2 separate regions of the Homo sapiens genome follow, and region 1 is reported to be linked to region 2. Evidence: microRNA targets listed by miRTarBase, many of them from high-throughput screens and not tested one by one. Region 2 holds a microRNA gene; the other region holds the end of a gene's coding sequence.

The links. Region 2 holds the annotated microRNA hsa-miR-4260 (CUUGGGGCAUGGAGUCCCA, at 1,030-1,048, opposite strand). A microRNA usually pairs through its seed, bases 2 to 8, with sites in the 3' UTR of a target mRNA and lowers its output. Matches are read on the target gene's strand: a 7mer-m8 pairs with bases 2 to 8, a 7mer-A1 pairs with bases 2 to 7 and ends in A, and an 8mer does both.
Region 1: the mRNA of MSI1 is a reported target of hsa-miR-4260. The part of its 3' UTR that is shown has no 7-base or 8-base seed match.

Annotation. Positions count from the first base shown.
Region 1 is chr12:120,342,868-120,345,940 of GRCh38, forward strand. It overlaps MSI1 (musashi RNA binding protein 1), which reads right to left. Exons shown (of 15, transcript NM_002442.4): 14 at 2,703-2,765; 15 at 1-238. The coding sequence ends at 2,724. Among named protein-coding and RNA genes, the nearest start is that of PLA2G1B, 17 kb to the left of the region's middle.
Region 2 is chr1:209,622,453-209,625,452 of GRCh38, forward strand. MIR4260 (microRNA 4260) reads right to left here and starts at 1,058; the gene lies at 992-1,058. It overlaps LAMB3 (laminin subunit beta 3), which reads right to left. Exons shown (of 23, transcript NM_000228.3): 15 at 1,388-1,548; 16 at 1,053-1,273; 17 at 530-727; 18 at 84-228.

The sequences.
Region 1 (3,073 bases), not on the chromosome of region 2:
AAATAAAAGCAGGGCCGGGAGAGGGGCGGGTGGGGATGGGGGCAAGGGCGAAGAGGGGGACGTTAGTAGGGGAGCCAGACGCTGTTGGGGGCAGCAGGGCAGGGGCCGGGCCCGGGGAGTTGGGGGCAGGCAGTAGCGGGTCCGAGTCGCTGCAGGGGAGGGGGCGGCGGCTGCGGCTGAGGTCTCCCGCCCCCTCGCTGGCTCACTCGTGGTCCTCAGTCAGCTGCAGGCTGGGGCGCTGGGAACACAGCCAGGAGGTTATGGGGGCTCCCGGAGCACACGCAGCCCTCCCCAGTTCTCTCCCAGAAGAGCTTTGTTCGTAAACTACCTACTTTCTTCTTCTTATTTTTTTAGAGACAGAGTCCAGCTCTGTTGCCCAGGCTGGAGTGCAGTGACAGCGATCATAGTTCACTGCAGCCTCAACCTCCCTAGGCTCAAGTGATCCTCCTGCCTCAGCCTCCTGAGACTCTGGGATTACAGGTAGTATCTGGGACTACAGGTGAAAGCAAACACACTCTGCTCATTTTTGTTGTTGTAGCAGAGATGGGGATTCACTATATTGCCCAGGCTAGTCTCAAACTCTTGTCCTCAAGCCATCCTCCTGCCTTGGCCTCCCAAAGATCTGGGATTACGAATGTGAGCCACCACACCCAGCCAGACTTTGCACTTTCTGTTCCCTGGTTGGATGCCTCTTTCCCCAGATTTCGAATGGCTGGATTTATTTAAATGTCCCCTTCTCAGAGATACCTTCTCTAAACCCCACATCTAAAATAGCCCTGTCATGCACAGTCTGGAATTATCTCATATGTTCACTTGATTTTTGTCCTGTGAAATGAGAGAGGACTTTGTCTGTCTTGTTCATCCTCTTTCCTGGAATGGGGCTCATAAATGAATGGGTGAATGAACAGAATGTCATGGGCTCACAGTCTCCCACCATCTGGATAGACACTGTGATGGCCGTGTACACAGTCCCACAAGTCGAGGTATCCTGTTGTTTTTTGTTTGTTGAGGTGGAGTCTTGCTCTGTTGCCCAGGCTGGAGTGCAGTGGCCTGATCTCGGCTCACTGCAGCCTTCGCTTTCTGGGTTCAAGCGATTCTTGTCCCTCAGCCTCCCGAGTAGCTGAGATTACAAGTGCGCACCATCACGCCAGCCAAGTTTTGTATTTTTAGTAGAGATGGGGTTTTACCATGTTGTCCAGGCTGGTCTAGAACTCCTGACCTCAGGTGATCCGCCTGCCTTGGCCCCGCAAAGTGCTGGGATTATAGGCGTGAGCCACTGCGCCCGGCCAAGGTATCCTGTTTTGATAGCTGTGTACTATACCACTGTACACACACTAATTTGTTTAACCACTTTCCTTTTGATGGATATTTCAGTTATTTGCAGTTTTAAAAATAAATGCCTAGAAGTGGAATTGTTGGGTCCAAGGGCATGAATGTTTGAAACTGGGACAAACACTGCCAGACTGCCCCGGGAACCCCTGAGCCACTGTACTTACTTGCTTCTCCCATATCTTGATCAATGCTGGGCAGTGTTCAACTTAAAAAATCTTTGTGGCTGGGCCCGGTGGCTCATGCCTGAAATCCCAGCACTTTGGGAGGCCAAGGCAGAGGAAGATCGTTTGAGCCAGGAGTTCAAGACCAACCTGGGCCACATAATGAGACCCCATCTCTACAAAAAAATTTTTTAAAAACTTAGCCAGGCATGGTGGCATGCTCTTGTGGTCCCCGCTACTTGGGAGGCTGAGGTGGAGGATGGCTTGAGCCTAGGAGTTCCAGGCTGCAGCGAGCTGTGATTGCACACTGCACTCCAGCCTGGGTGGCAGTGAGACCACATCTCTATTAAAAATAATAATAATAGGGCTGGGCACGGTGGCTCACCCCTGTAATCCCAGCACTTTGGGAGGCCGAGGCAGATGGATCACTTGAGGCCAGGAGTTTGAGACCAGCCTGGCCAACATGGCAAAACTCGTCTCTGCTAAAAACAAAAAAAATACCAAAATTAGCTGGGTGCGGTAGCACATGCCTGTAATCCCAGCTACTCGGGAGGCTGAGACACGAGAATTGCTTGAACCCAGGGGACGAGTTTGCAGTGAGCCAAGATTGCGCCACTGCACTCCAGCCTGGGTGACAGAGCGAGACTCCATCTACAAAAATAAAATAAAATAATAGTAATAATAATAAACGATCTTAAAAAATCTTTGTGGCCTGCGCTGGTGGCTCACACCTGTAATCCCAGCACTTTGGGGGACCAGGGCAGGAGGATCCCTTGAGCCCAGGAGTTTGAGACCAGCCTGGGCAACACAGTGAAACCCTGTCTCTACAAAAAAAGTAAAAAAATTAGCCAGGCATGGTGGCAGGTGCTTGCAGTCCCAGCTACTCGGGAGGAGTCTGAGGTGGGAGGATCCCTTGAGCCCAGGAGGTGTGGGTGACAGAACGATATCTTGTCTCAAAAATAATAATAATAATAATCTTTGCCAACCTGATAGGTGGGATGTGAAGCCTTACTGTTGCTTTGATTTCTGTGTTTAAATGGAGTAGGGTGAGCAGCTTTTCATCTTTATTGACCACAGCTGGTATAAAGATCTGTCTCCCCTGGGACTGTGGTTCTTGAGGGCAGGGATGGGGTCTGTGTCCCAGATTCGATGGCCCAGGACAGGCTTCCCCAGTGCCACCCCACCACCTGCCCACCCCCACATCCTCACCTCCTGCCACCGTCCCCTGCTTCAGTGGTACCCATTGGTGAAGGCTGTGGCAATCAAAGGGCCCTGAAAAGGAAAGAATTTGACTCCTAGATTCCTGGGAAATAGAGGAAGATCAGGGGCTCCTTCTCTCTCTGCAGGACATCTGAAGTGAGGCGCTGACCTCTCTCTACCTGTCCGGATCGCCCCCCTACTGCAGGTCTGCCTACCCGGATCACCCCCCACTGCAGGTCTGCTCAAAGATTCTCCAACAGAGGGCCAGGGAATCTGCACAAACCGTACCCTGGATAAAACCAGGGCACCCCTGGAATCAAACCTCCATGTGAGCAGAGATGCCATGTGTCTCATTTGCACCTAGAGCCCACTATGCCTGG
Region 2 (3,000 bases):
GGGCTGGCTGATGCACTGAACATGGGAATGCGGGACAGGCAGGACTGGAACAGCAGCCAAGGTGGGGTGGAGACTGGGCTCACCTGTTAGGAAGTCCCGGACCTGCTGGATTAGGAGCCGTGTGCGTCTGACATCTTCCTCCATCTGGGAGCGGCTGGCGCTCACCTGGGTCTCCAAGCGCTGGGCACTGGATTGAATCTGTGAGGCAGATTCCTCGGCTGCCCTAATCTGTTGACATACACTCTAGGTCAGAAGGGGTAAGGCCCCAAGGGAACCTCTCAGCAGCCCCACGATTCTGCGGATCATCCTCTATGCCAAGACCTACCTAGGAAGCATTTGTAACCAACCCAGCTTACATGTGGATGTTCAGTAAAAGAGAAAAAAAACTATCTTGCACTTGCTGTGGCACCTTAAGCAGGTCACCTAAAATCTCTGGACTTTAGTGTAAAATGGGAACTCTGACTTGCCCGGGGGATCTATCCTGTCTGCCTCCTCCTACCTGTGCCCACCCCGCCTCGGCTGCACTTACCATCTGCCTGGTCCGCTGGAGCTGGGCATTGAAGCCCCGCAGCTGCTCAGCCACCTGCCCCGCCATCAAGAAGGCCCCACCGGCCCTGGGAAGGACACCCCTGCAGCGGGAGCCACAGGCTGTGCCATTGTCTTGGGGACATAGCTCACCAGGGCATGATATTGGGGTGCAAGCCATCTGCCTGGAGTTGCCACAGAGCTGTGGACAGATGGCGGTGTTAAAGAGGCTACCCAAAGCCCCTCAATAACCAATCCCACCCCACACCTGGGAAACCAACAGCCAGACATCTCCATGACAACCAAGCACCAGAAACAGCCAGACATCTCCATGAGAGCTAAGGACCAGAAACTGGTTTCCTTGGCAACCACTGAGCTCACAGTGAGCAGTACAAGGGTCGGGATGGCTGGGGGAGTGGGGTTCTCACAGGGGCAGATCTGCCCTAATAGGAAGCAGGTGGCAGCAGTTGGTGTGTGACAAGCTGGGGTGTGGGCTCCAGGAAGTGGGACTCCATGCCCCAAGTCACCTTGTTGAAGGTGGGTGTCAGGTCAGGCAACGAAGACATCTCCAGCCTCAGGGCCACAAGCTTGGGGCTGCCGGTGCCTCCTCCTCCTCCCGCCTGCCGCACCAGCCTCTCTGCCTCTCTCCGGCTGTCCCTGAGCTGGTCCAAAAGGCGCGAGCTGTCGGAGACCTGCTGAGCAGCCTGGGCTGACTGCTCGTAGGCTGTGCTCAGCATCCGGAAGGCTCCTGTGGCGAGAAGCATGAGGAATGGAGATGGAGGAGGAGCAGGAGGGAGAGGGGGTGGCATGCCCACCACGGCAGTGCCCATGCCCGGGGTTATCCGGGTGCCCCTCTCCTCACCTGAAGGATCAGCACTGCTTATTTTTTCAAACTGCTCCCTCTTCCTCTGATACATAGTAAGGAGACCATTGAAGCTTCTGTCAAGACTCTCCAGGTCTCTCGGAAGGGACAACGTCTCCTCCTCCAGGGGCAGATCCAGCTGCAGGCCCTGGAGAGTTCGCCTGAGAAGGGAGAGGAGCTTACACTAAAATATAGGAGGGAGTTTTGCCTCCCCAAAGCAGCTATCCCCTCAGAGCAACTGCTACTGAGTCAGAACAAACAGAGACCTTGGGCAAAGGCAACAGAACAGAGAATCCACAGGCTAAGGGGGTTCCGCTGGACAGAGGCTTGGCGACCAGCACAATCTTTCTCTGTCCAGGTGCAGATGGAGCCACAAAACTCTCCTCCCTTGACTTCTATGACCCAACATTCCCAATTCTCCTCCCCCTCTTCCAGATCCTGGCTTCCATGAGGAGCAATGCCCTGATGCCCTCCTCCTTCGCTCTCTATGGGCTGGCTTCAGCTACCATCTGTACAGCTGCAGCTCCAAAATCTCTTCCACAGTCCACACCTCCCACTCAGCTCCAGATCCCATCACTGCTGCCAGCTGGTCATCCCCCCGAAGGAGGCTCAGAGTCTACCTCCCAGGCCCTTGGCCACTGAGCTCTTGGAGAGTCCTCTCTCCCTGTGCCCTTTGCAGCTCCACCAACCCAACCACCAGCTCCCTCCTCCAAGCCTCACATTCTCCACCTCCAGGCTTTGATCAGGCACAGAACGCCCTTCCATGGAATGCCCCTCCATGCCTGTGTTTCCAACCTACTGAATCTGGTGGACTGACTGCCCGAATCTGAGACTTAGGTCAGAAGGCACCTCTGTGAAGCCTGCCATGACACATTATAACATGCGTCACATTATAGTTTACCATTTACACATCATTCTCCCCAGTGCGAGCTTCTTGAGCGCAAAGATTATGTCATACTAATTTCAATATCCCCAATGCCTGTACAATGCTTGTTTCATCATAGATGCTCTAAAATTATGTAAAGAGAAAGAAAGAGAGAGAGGAAGGAAGGAAGGAAGGAAGGAAGGAAGGAAGGAAGGAAGGAAGGAAGGAAGGAAAAAAAGGGAAGGAAGGAAGGAAGGAAAAAAGAAGGAAAAGAAGGAAGGAAGGAAGGTAGGTTGGTTTTCAATATTCGCTTGAGTTCCTCTCCCGGAGCCCCCAGCCAGAAGCTCTAGCACATCGTGAGTCACGGAGCCTCCATTTTCATTCTTCTCAGGCTGCCTTTTCCTTCCCCACCACTCACACACCTGGATGGCTCTGTGCACAGTCAGAAAGCCAGTGCTCAGGGAATGCAAACTAATTATAGAAGCTTCCAGAACTGAACCTCACTAAGAAGGCACCTCTGCTGGTGGGATGGGGGTGTGGGCGGGACCAACTTCCATTCCAAAGCCACACGTGAGTTATTTTTAGAGCCCCTGCCTCTCGGATGCCCTCCGCCAGGGTGACTAATCCAGAGCTGACTCTCTCCCACAGGCAGCACTGGGCACTTAAAAGAACGCTGGGCTTGGGCTCCTGGACTGTGTTCTGAGGCCCAGCTCTGCCCTTCGGTGGTCATGTGGCTCTGTCACATCAC